Linked DNA regions of Homo sapiens. The protein of the gene in region 1 purifies or fractionates together with the protein of each later gene. This does not show direct contact. Each region holds a gene or a part of one and is shown on either strand. Other genes may lie near its edges.

Evidence for each region. Proteins that work in one complex are often made in the same cells at the same time.
Region 2: the proteins of IQCF2 (region 1) and PASK purify together in Homo sapiens (affinity purification with mass spectrometry; one large-scale study listed by BioGRID and IntAct). This does not show direct contact.

The regions. Positions count from the first base shown.
Region 1 is NC_000003.12:51,859,589-51,864,934, forward strand, and holds IQCF2 (IQ domain-containing protein F2), read left to right. Parts: upstream 1-2,026; 5' UTR 2,027-2,078; coding exon 2,079-2,096; intron 2,097-2,269; coding exon 2,270-2,362; intron 2,363-3,398; coding exon 3,399-3,782; 3' UTR 3,783-3,836; downstream 3,837-5,346.
Region 2 is NC_000002.12:241,138,590-241,143,042, reverse strand, and holds part of PASK (PAS domain-containing serine/threonine-protein kinase), read left to right. Parts: coding exon of another isoform or gene 1-10; coding exon 11-206; intron 207-2,289; coding exon 2,290-2,522; intron 2,523-2,987; coding exon 2,988-3,158; intron 3,159-4,248; coding exon 4,249-4,389; intron 4,390-4,453. UniProt on the Homo sapiens protein: Serine/threonine-protein kinase involved in energy homeostasis and protein translation. Phosphorylates EEF1A1, GYS1, PDX1 and RPS6.

The DNA of each region.
Region 1 (5,346 bases):
ACTATTGTCCTATGACCCTGCCAAATTCCCCTCTCCAAGAAACACCCAAGAATGATCAATAAAAAATAAATTAAAAAAAAAAAAAAAGAAGTTTAAGAAGACCTAAATAAAGACATCTGTGTCTGTAGGTTAGAAGACTTAATATTGCTAAAATGACAATATTCCCCAAATTGATCTACAGATTTAGCATAATCCCTATCAGAATTCAGCTGACTTCTTTTGCAGAAATTGACAAGCTGGTTCTAAAATTCATATGGAAAGTCAAGGGATTCAGAATAGCCAAAGCAATCTTGAAAAAGAAAAACAAAGTGGGAGGGCTCACACTTCCTGATTTCAAAACTTACTACGAAGCTACAGTAATCAAACTGGTTTGGTACAGGCACAAACACAGACATATAGGTCAGTGAAATAGAATAGAGAGTCTGAAAGAAACCCATATATCTATGGTCAATTTAGTTTTGACAAGGGTGCCAAGTCCATTCAATGGGAAAACAATTGTCTTTTTGACAAATTATGCCAGAACAACTCGACATCCACATGTAAAAGAATGAATTTGAACCTAGCCTCACTCCATACACAAAACTTAAAATGGATCAAAGATCTAAATGTAAGAGCTAAAGCTATAAAACTCTTAGAATTTTAAATCGGCCAGGTATGGTGGTTCACACCTGTAATCCCAGCACTTTGGGAAGCTGAGGTGGGAGAATCACTTGAGCCCAGGAGTTTGAGACCAGCCCAATCAACATAGTGAGACCCCATATCTTAATAAATACATACTTTAAAAAATAAAAGAACAAAAAAATGAAAAAAATAAATAGCCAGGCATGGTGGTGTGTGCCTGTAGTCCCAGCTACTCAGGAGGCTGAGGTGGGAGGATCACCTGAGTCCAGGAAGGTCAAGCCTGCAGTGAGCCAAAGTTGCACCACTGCACTCCAGCCTGGACAACAGAGTGACACCCTATCTCCAAAAAAGAAAAAGAGAGAAAGAAAATCATTTTCTCTTAGTGTTCAAATTTGTCACCATCAATATTTCCTTGTATTTATTTAAATTTCCCTGTGGCTATTTCACCTTTTTCATTCCACTTCATTCTCTTGATTACCCAGGTTGGTAAACTGTGTATCTTTAAAACTGGTCTTGTCAGAATACTGCCTTTTAAATTTATTTTCCACTACCCATCTTTGTTTTCTATGCATTAATTTAAGTTTTGATCTTTATTTGACTGCTTTCCAGATTCATCTGGTGTATCTTTTTCTAGTTTCCTAAGGCTTTGTGAGGCACCGAGTCAAGGGAAGAGAGGAAGTGCTAAATCTCACCAGACGCTAGAGAGTGATATGGGGATGCACCGTCATGGTCCTCCCTGCTTTGCCATGCTGATGATAATGAGAAGGGACTGTGGATGGACTTCACATGAGGAGAGCCCTGCTATGGAATGGCACTCAAGTGCTCTATTTTTCCACCCTCAGCTCTGACACATCTCTGACAGGAGGCAAGCAGACACATGGTACTGAGGAGAGAGGCCATTTCTCTTACTGTCTCCTGTCTCTGAAGAGAATGAGGAAGTAAAAGCTGAAGAACAACAGGAATGAAGTCAGTGGCAAGACCAACTGGTGCCACTGACCAGACCTGAGATTGAAAGATTAACCCTCCCCACCCCCAACTCTAACCACATGTGCTCTCAATCTATCACAACACTTTCACATGGACCCCTTAGAGTTGAAAGCCCTAAAAAGGGCCAGGTTTCACATGGACCCCTTAGAGTTGAAAGCCCTTTAAAGGGCCAGGAACTCTTTCTTTAGGGAGCTCGGTTCTTGAGATGCAAGTCGGCCAATGCTCCCGGGGGAATAAAGCCTCTTCCTTCTTTAACCCAGTGTCTGAGGGGTTTTGTCTGCAGCTCATCCTGCTACAGTACAAGTTCCCCTGGAGTTTGTTTCTGACAGAGACACATCTCTGTGGCAGATGTCCCAATCCCTATGTCATAATGCAATTGTGAATTCAGAGCTCTCTCCTCACTCACGTTACTCATGCCAGACCTTGGGAAGCAGAGAAATCAGGGCTAATGAACCATCTAAGGACAGGCCATGAGGGTTCGATTTTGTGTAAGAGACATGGCCAGATCTATTAGGTGGACCAGGAATGGGTGGGTATCTCCCTGGGCTTTACAGGACTTGAGAAAAGAGAGGATGTTAAAGTAGTAATTGTCTTTGTATAGAGCCATAGAGAGAAACAGTCTTAACTCATTTATGTACTTCCCATTTAATTCTGATGACAGACCAAAGGCAATTTAATTTTGGTTATAATTGAGGATGTTGAAGAAAGCATTGAATGGAAGACATTGCAGAAGAAGAAACAGCAGAAAATCAAGGTGAGAAGAATTCCATGTACTTAAGAGAAATCCAGAACATTTATAACTACATCATAAGGTGTAGGACTTTGCCTCTTATCAATCCAGGGTCTAATTAGGAGTCAACTCAATGTTGGCTCATTTTTCCTCCATTCTCTTCTCAGTCTGGGCTGTCTGGATCTGGGCCTGACTGAGATATTGAGAGTGATTGGAAAGAATGAAAGCCTTGGGAGGCCGAGACAGGCAGATCATGAGGTCAGGAGATTGAGACCATCCTGGCTAACACGGTGAAACCCCATCTCTACTAAAAATACAAAAAATTAGCCGGGTGTGGTGGTGAGTGCCTGTAGTCCCAGCTATGCTACTCAGGAGGCTGAGGCAGGAGAATGGGTGAACCCGAGAAGCGGAGCTTGCAGTGAGCCAAGATCACGCCACTGCACTCCAGCCTGGGCAACAGAGCGAGACTCCTTCTCAAAAAAAAAAAAAAAAAAAAGAATGAAAGCCATCAAGAAATGCATAAGGCTGAGAGGTGAGAATGTGAGAACTTGGAATTAGAGAGTAGACTGTTCAAAATATGGAAAGACTTGGAGTAGAATATGTGGTCAGGGTATTGAAAACCTACCATAGTATCAAAATATGGTCATAGCAGACAGAAATCAGCCAGTGGTGGTTTGGGGCTGGAATTAGCAGATAATTACCAGGCAGAAGGTTATGAGGCCTTTCCAAACCCAGTGAGCACCAAAGAGGTGAGTGTGACTAACAAGGTCCCACACATCCCTATTGCACCCTTCTAGTTACTAATGGTTTTTCCCTTGATCCATGCACTGCAGAAATAGTCTGCAGAAGAACTCTGTGACTCTAAGATTGAAGTGATGTGCCCACAGTGGCAGAGGAAGGTCACCACCAGGTCTGATGGCTCCTAGTCAGTGTCCTGCTAACTTCCCTGAATTCTGAGGAAGGGCTGTGTTTTGAGAGAGAAAATCCAGGCTCCTTCCAGGAAGATCCTAGAAGTTGGTGGCAGGAAGTTTTCTGACTGATCGCTCTTGTCTCTGCCTAGGAAAAACTTAGAATAAGAACAAAAGCAGCTGTAAAGATCCAGGCCTGGTGGCGGGGCACCCTGGTGCGCAGGACACTGCTGCATGCAGCCCTCAGGGCCTGGATAATTCAGTGCTGGTGGCGGATGACGCTGTCGAGGGTGCTGGAGAAGAAACGGCAGGCAGCTCTGATCGCCTACGCAACCAGAGAGAGGGCAGTGATCAAGCTCCAGTCTTTGGTCCGTATGTGGCGTGTCCGCTGGCGATACTGCCAGGTGCTCAATGCCATCTACATCATCCAGGGCCACTGGCAATGCCACAACTGCCAGACCTGCGCTCTCCTCCAGGGCCACTGTGTGGTCACAGCCACTCACCTGCAGTTCCACATTGAGATCATCAACTCCTAAGGGCTGGCAAGAAGGGCACTGTGTCTACTGTCCCTATTAAAGGTCTAACCTGGTCTGGTGTGTCTCATGGGCTCCCCCAGCTAATGGGATTCTTGAGACTTGGACCTTGCTGCCTCCTCTTCTCCCTGAGAAAGAATTTCAGTGAGGTTTGCCCCCTGTGTCCAAGGACCCTGTTTTGGACTGACAATGGCCATAGGAAGCCCCAGTCTGCTCTGATATATGACAGAGCCAGAAATCCCAGTTCCCATCCCCAGCCTTATTTTCTTCTCACCGGGGGATCTGGGAGGCAGTTGGGCTCCATCTTCCTGAAGATTCTGGGCACCTCTGCACATATGGATGGACTATTGGGCCCTGCTCTGTCAACCTAGAATCAAGGTCGGCTGGGGTTTGGGATGCCTCAGTTTCCTCTTTGGCAAGCACCTAGATGGAAAGGCAATATTTGGCTGATTCTCCTGGGAGCAATGTAGTGCAGCCCCAGGTGAAGGATAAGAGGCTGGCCTTACTGGTAGGTGGGGCTGGGGCTAGGCATGCTAATGATTAGGTGGTGACCCTAAGGACTAGTGGAAAACAGAAGTTTACAGAAGTTCATCTTTTCTCTACAATTTCCTCACTAGAACTCGTCTCCCCAAGGGCCAGGTGACAAACAGGGCTCCCTCTGATATTACCCCCACCCCTACTCTTATCTCAATTATTGGTGATTTTATCATTGGTCAAGATGACCCTACAATCTCCTCCATTCTAACCTCAAACCTTTTCTGCTCTTCTCCTCAGCTATTCACTCCCACAGTCATACCAAAACAATGCTATTCTATGGAACTTCTGTGATGATGGAAATCTCTCTCTATGCTGTCCAACATAGTAGCCACTAGCCACATATAGTTGTGGTGCACCTGAAATGTGCCTAGTGCAACTGAGGAGTTGAATTTTTTATTTTATTTAAATTTAAATAATCATTGGACAATGATGCTCTAGACCTCATCATCACCAATAATTGTACTATTGCTCAAATTGCTTTTTCTAATTTTCCATTCTTTGATTACTTTCTTCTTTCAGTTCACCTTTTCAATAACCCCAATATTTCTTCAGATATGATAAGGTCTTCCAGTTTATTGATGCTATCATTTTTTTACAGCCACCACCCCTGACATGCTCTTGCATGTTTCTTTACCTAGTGCAGATTCCATGGTTAATTATCATCTCTCCCCTGCACTACCTCACTTCCTTGGCCCACTTTCTTTCTGCAAACATGTATGAGATGAAGGCAACCGTCTCCCTGTTCCATGCCTACAGAATAAGGGAACATGGCTGGGACAAAACCAACAACCATGAGGCATGGTCTTCATTTATATTCATGACCACATATATCAACTGGACTAATTTCCCAATGAATTTATTTAGTATGTTTGCATTTATATTTTCCGAGTTGAATAATTTACACCACCTCCTCTCCAAATGTTTGTTATTTCGGTTGGAATAAATGGTGTCAGAAATGAAACCTGAAAAAGAACACTATTGGAAGGGATTGGCAATTCTTGGAACTGGTGTGCAGGACCCACTAGAGCCC
Region 2 (4,453 bases), on another chromosome or scaffold:
CCTTCTTCCCATGGAGGACGGGGGCTTAACAGCCTTTGAAGAGGACCAGAGATGCCTTTCCCAGAGCCTCCCCTTGCCAGTGTCAGCAGAGGGCCCAGCTGCACAGACCACTGCTGAGCCCAGCAGGTCGTTTTCCTCAGCCCACAGACACCTGAGCAGAAGGAATGGGCTTTCCAGACTCTGCCAGAGCAGGACAGCGCTCTCTGGTAATGACCTTCGACCACTGCAGGCCTTAGCGCGTGGAAATACAAATGTGGAGTTGCTCTGTGTTCTCATGGAAACCCTCTCACCAGGGATTGAAGTCACTCTATTCCTGCAGAGAAAAGTTCGTGGTTTAAGTGCTCGGCTCATGCTGGCAGATGACTCCGGCAGGACCCTTCCTGCTGCTTTTACTCTGCTGTGATTCCCAGGCAGCTGGCGCTTCTTTTCAGGCAGCAGGTGGAACTCACCTTCACATTTCAGGGTCAAGTTACAACAAAATGTTATTTCTTACTTTAGAGTATGTGAGAACGCTGTTCTAGGTTAGGCTATTTTACTTAGGGAATTGCAGCTTTGCTCGTGCAGTTTACTGAGCTAAACGCGGTTTAGCTGGTGGACCAAGAATCATGGGGCAGAAGTCTGTTGGTGCCTCCTATGTCCAGATTCCGTTGGTGCCTCCTTTGTCCAGGCACCCCAAAGGACTGGGCCATGGTGAGGAAGGAAGCGTCACTTGCCTTTCAGGGGCTGTCTGATGGAGGCACTTGGGGAGACAGCAGGCTGTGTGCTTGAAGTTGGGGTAGACCTGGAAAATGGGGAAGTGGGGCATAGAGCTGCGGGAAATGGTGGCTGGGAGTCTGGTCTCCAGGTCAAGGAGCACTTCGACACTGGAGTAGGAGGGTGTTGGAGCTGAGCTTGTGCACTGGAGTGTCTGAGGGTGTAGAGCGGAGGGCCCTGTGGAGAGTGCCCAGGATACTGCAGGGAGGGGTGGGCTGGGAGGCACACAGCGCCCTTGGGAGTGGGCTTCACCCAGGCGCTGATCAGGAATGTTCTCAGTGAGTGTTGACAGGTGTGTTCCTTTTTTGGAGCATCATTCTGGTGGCTGCATGAGGAGCAGGGGTGGGAGCCGGAGGTACAGGGCCTTGAGACATGAGAAGGAGCTGCGCTTGGTGACTGCTGTCTGGGGAAGAGCAGGGGCGAGAGTGGCTGGATGGCCACGTGGTTTCCAGCCTCAGAGAATGGTCGGGGTCAGGCCACTCACTGAGAAAGTCAGGGGTCCTGGCTGGAGGACATGGAGGGGAGGGGATGGGAGAGAAATGGAAGGGTCAGGTCTTGAGTGCTTGGTTTTGAGCACTGGAAGAATGTATCTGGTGTCTCCAGAGATGGGGAAGCAGGCGAGTGGGCCGTGGGAGGTCCAGGCTGGAGGTGCGAGTGTGAGAGTCTTCAGTGCATTTCTAATTAGATGTATTTAAAGCTACCGAGGAATGGGTGAGATGGAGCCAGGGTCACTGAGAGGTGGGAGGTGGGGGAGCCCAGGTGCCCGAGGAGGGTGGTGTGGGAGGAGGGTGAGGCCTGAGGAATGACGGGGCTGAGGGTTTTGGGAGCCATTGGAGGCGTTGCTGAGAGAACGCTGCACAAGGAGCTCTTGAATCGTAGGAACGCTTCCAAGGAGGAGGTGACGGGGCAGCCACCGGAGTGGCCATGGGGTCTTGGAATGACTGACAGAGGACAGAAGGTGGGAAGGAAGGAACCTTTGAGTGTAATTAAGCTTTTTTGTTTTTTGGGACAAGGTCTGACTGTTGCTCAGGCTGGAGTGCAGTGGCGCAGTCATAGCTCGCTGCAGTCTCAAACTCCTGGGCTCAGGCAATCCTCCTGCCTTAGCCTCCTGAGTAGATGGGGCTGCAAGGGCACGCCACTATGCCCAACTGATTTTTACAAATTTTATTTTTAGTAGGGACAGGGTCTCGCTGTGTTGTCCAGGCTGGTCTTGAACTCCTGAACTCAAGCAACCTTCCTGCCTCAGCCTTCCAAAGAACTGGGATTATAGGCACGCCTGGCTTTGAGTGTAATTTAGACACAGAAGTGTTGATCTTATGCTGTTTGTGCTTCCGAGTGGACCTGGTGGTTGCCTAAGTGGATTCTGGGGACCATGTTCAGACACGCAGTGAGAGTGTGTGTTAGCTGTGCAGACTGACTTAATCCTTAGATCTTTTTGCAGGAGTTGAGGGCAAGGGCTGTGTGCTTTGCCTGTTTCAGAAGGTGGACTCTGGCAGCTGTGTGAAGTCTAAAGCTTCGCTTCGCTTCTCTTTTCAGAAGACAGATGGAGCTCCTATTGTCTATCATCACTGGCTGCCCAGAATATTTGTACAAGTAAACTGCACTGCCCTGCTGCCCCTGAGCACACGGACCCGTCCGAACCGCGGGGCAGTGTGTCCTGCTGCTCCCTGCTGCGGGGACTGTCCTCAGGGTGGTCCTCACCTCTGCTTCCGGCCCCTGTGTGCAACCCTAACAAGGCCATCTTCACGGTGGATGCCAAGACCACAGAGGTATTTGCTTCTCTTTTAGATCCAGCTGTGTAGATGTGGATTTGTGGTTTGTGCCTTAAACCTGGGATTTGTGTGTTTTAATGCAATTAGAAAAACATTTGGGCACTTCGGGAGGTGGGAAGTTTGCTTGAGCCCAGGAGTTCAAGACCAGCCTGGGCAACATAGCAAGATCCCATCTCTACAAAGAAATTAGCCAGGTGCGGTGGCACACACCTGTAGTCCCAGCTACCAGGGAGGCTGAGGCAGGAGGATCACTTGAACCCAGGAGTTCAAGGTTGCAGTGAGCTCTGATTGCGCCGCTGCAGTGAGCTCTGATTGCGCCACTGCACTCCAGCCTGGGCAACAGAGTGAGACCCTGTCTGTCAGGAAAAGGCTGGCTTCTGCATGGTCGTCCTGGGCTGTTCTGGGCAGCTGGTGGAGCTGCTGGGGATGTCTGCATCCTTGCTCCTCTTTGTGATTCCTCAGATCCTGGTTGCTAACGACAAAGCTTGCGGGCTCCTGGGGTACAGCAGCCAGGACCTGATTGGCCAGAAGCTCACGCAGTTCTTTCTGAGGTCAGATTCTGATGTGGTGGAGGCCCTCAGCGAGGAGCACATGGAGGCCGACGGCCACGCTGCGGTGGTGTTTGGCACGGTGGTGAGTGGATGCGGGTGCAGCGTTCAGTCTGGCCTCAAGACCAGCAGTGTGTGGCAGGAACAGCTCAGTGTTCCCTACCAGGAGCTCTGCTGGGGGTTGGGTGGCACCAGGACATCTCAGCTTCTTCAGCTGAAAATGTCATCCCAGGCGCCGTTTCCCCGCTTCAGCTGCAGTGGGGGTGGGGGCCCTTTAAGAACGAATCATCGCAGGAATGGACACTGTGGCTGTGGCTGGACTCCTGGGAGGTGTCGTGGGTGGCCCTTGCTTTGTCTGAGGGCTGTAGCTTCACTAATGTTTTGCAGTCCTGCCGGGCAGCACATCAGATGCTCAAGAGTAATATGGTTTTATTGTCTATTGATTTTTACATTCTGTTTGGTGTTTGTGGGAGCGGGCGGGGGTGTTGGCCTGGAAGCATTTCCCTAGACAGTGTTGATTCTCTCACCTGTGCCATGTGTCCAACCTGGATGTTGACAGGTGAGCTGAGTTGGATGTGGAGGACTGAGCCCAAGGCATGGAAAAAGCCCAAGGCATGGCTGATTGTAGGGTTTCCCCTCGTCAGCCGGTCGGGGACTGGGGGAGTAGCGTTGGAGGGCAGTGGAGGTTGGGGTATGATCTGAGGCTCTAGTAGTCATCCAGATCCTCCAGGTTGCCTGTTTCCCACCTAGTGTGTGGCTTTCACACAGAAGACCCCATTGCTTGAACTGAACTGATGTCACAGGCTTAGGACCAATTGTATCAGAAAATCACTGGTTCAAGAAACTGACTACTAAGAAGAAAAAAACTAAGATATTCACCATGTGTTGGTGTCTGTTTCTTTAAGAAATAACAGATACTGCTTTTTTCACCCTGCAATATTACCATGAACTGAGAATGAAATCTACTCTCTTGATAAAACTTGCACTTGGAGATTTTAATGTTCAGTATGGGAAATCTTGTTTGTGCTTTGGTAAATTTCTGAAATGAAAATCAGGTAAGCAGAAGTTGAAAACGTTGCAGTGCCTGGAGTTTGGGCCTCCTGGAGGCAGGTGCCCCACCCATACTGGTCTTTTGGGTTCATGGCATGCAGGTGTGAACCTGTCTGTTTCCACAGGTGGACATCATCAGCCGTAGTGGGGAGAAGATTCCAGTGTCTGTGTGGATGAAGAGGATGCGGCAGGAGCGCCGCCTATGCTGCGTGGTGGTCCTGGAGCCCGTGGAGAGGGTCTCGACCTGGGTCGCTTTCCAGAGCGATGTGAGTGTGCAACTTTGCCTCATGTCTCATGGACGCTGGAGCCGGCGTCGTTCTCCTCTTCAGC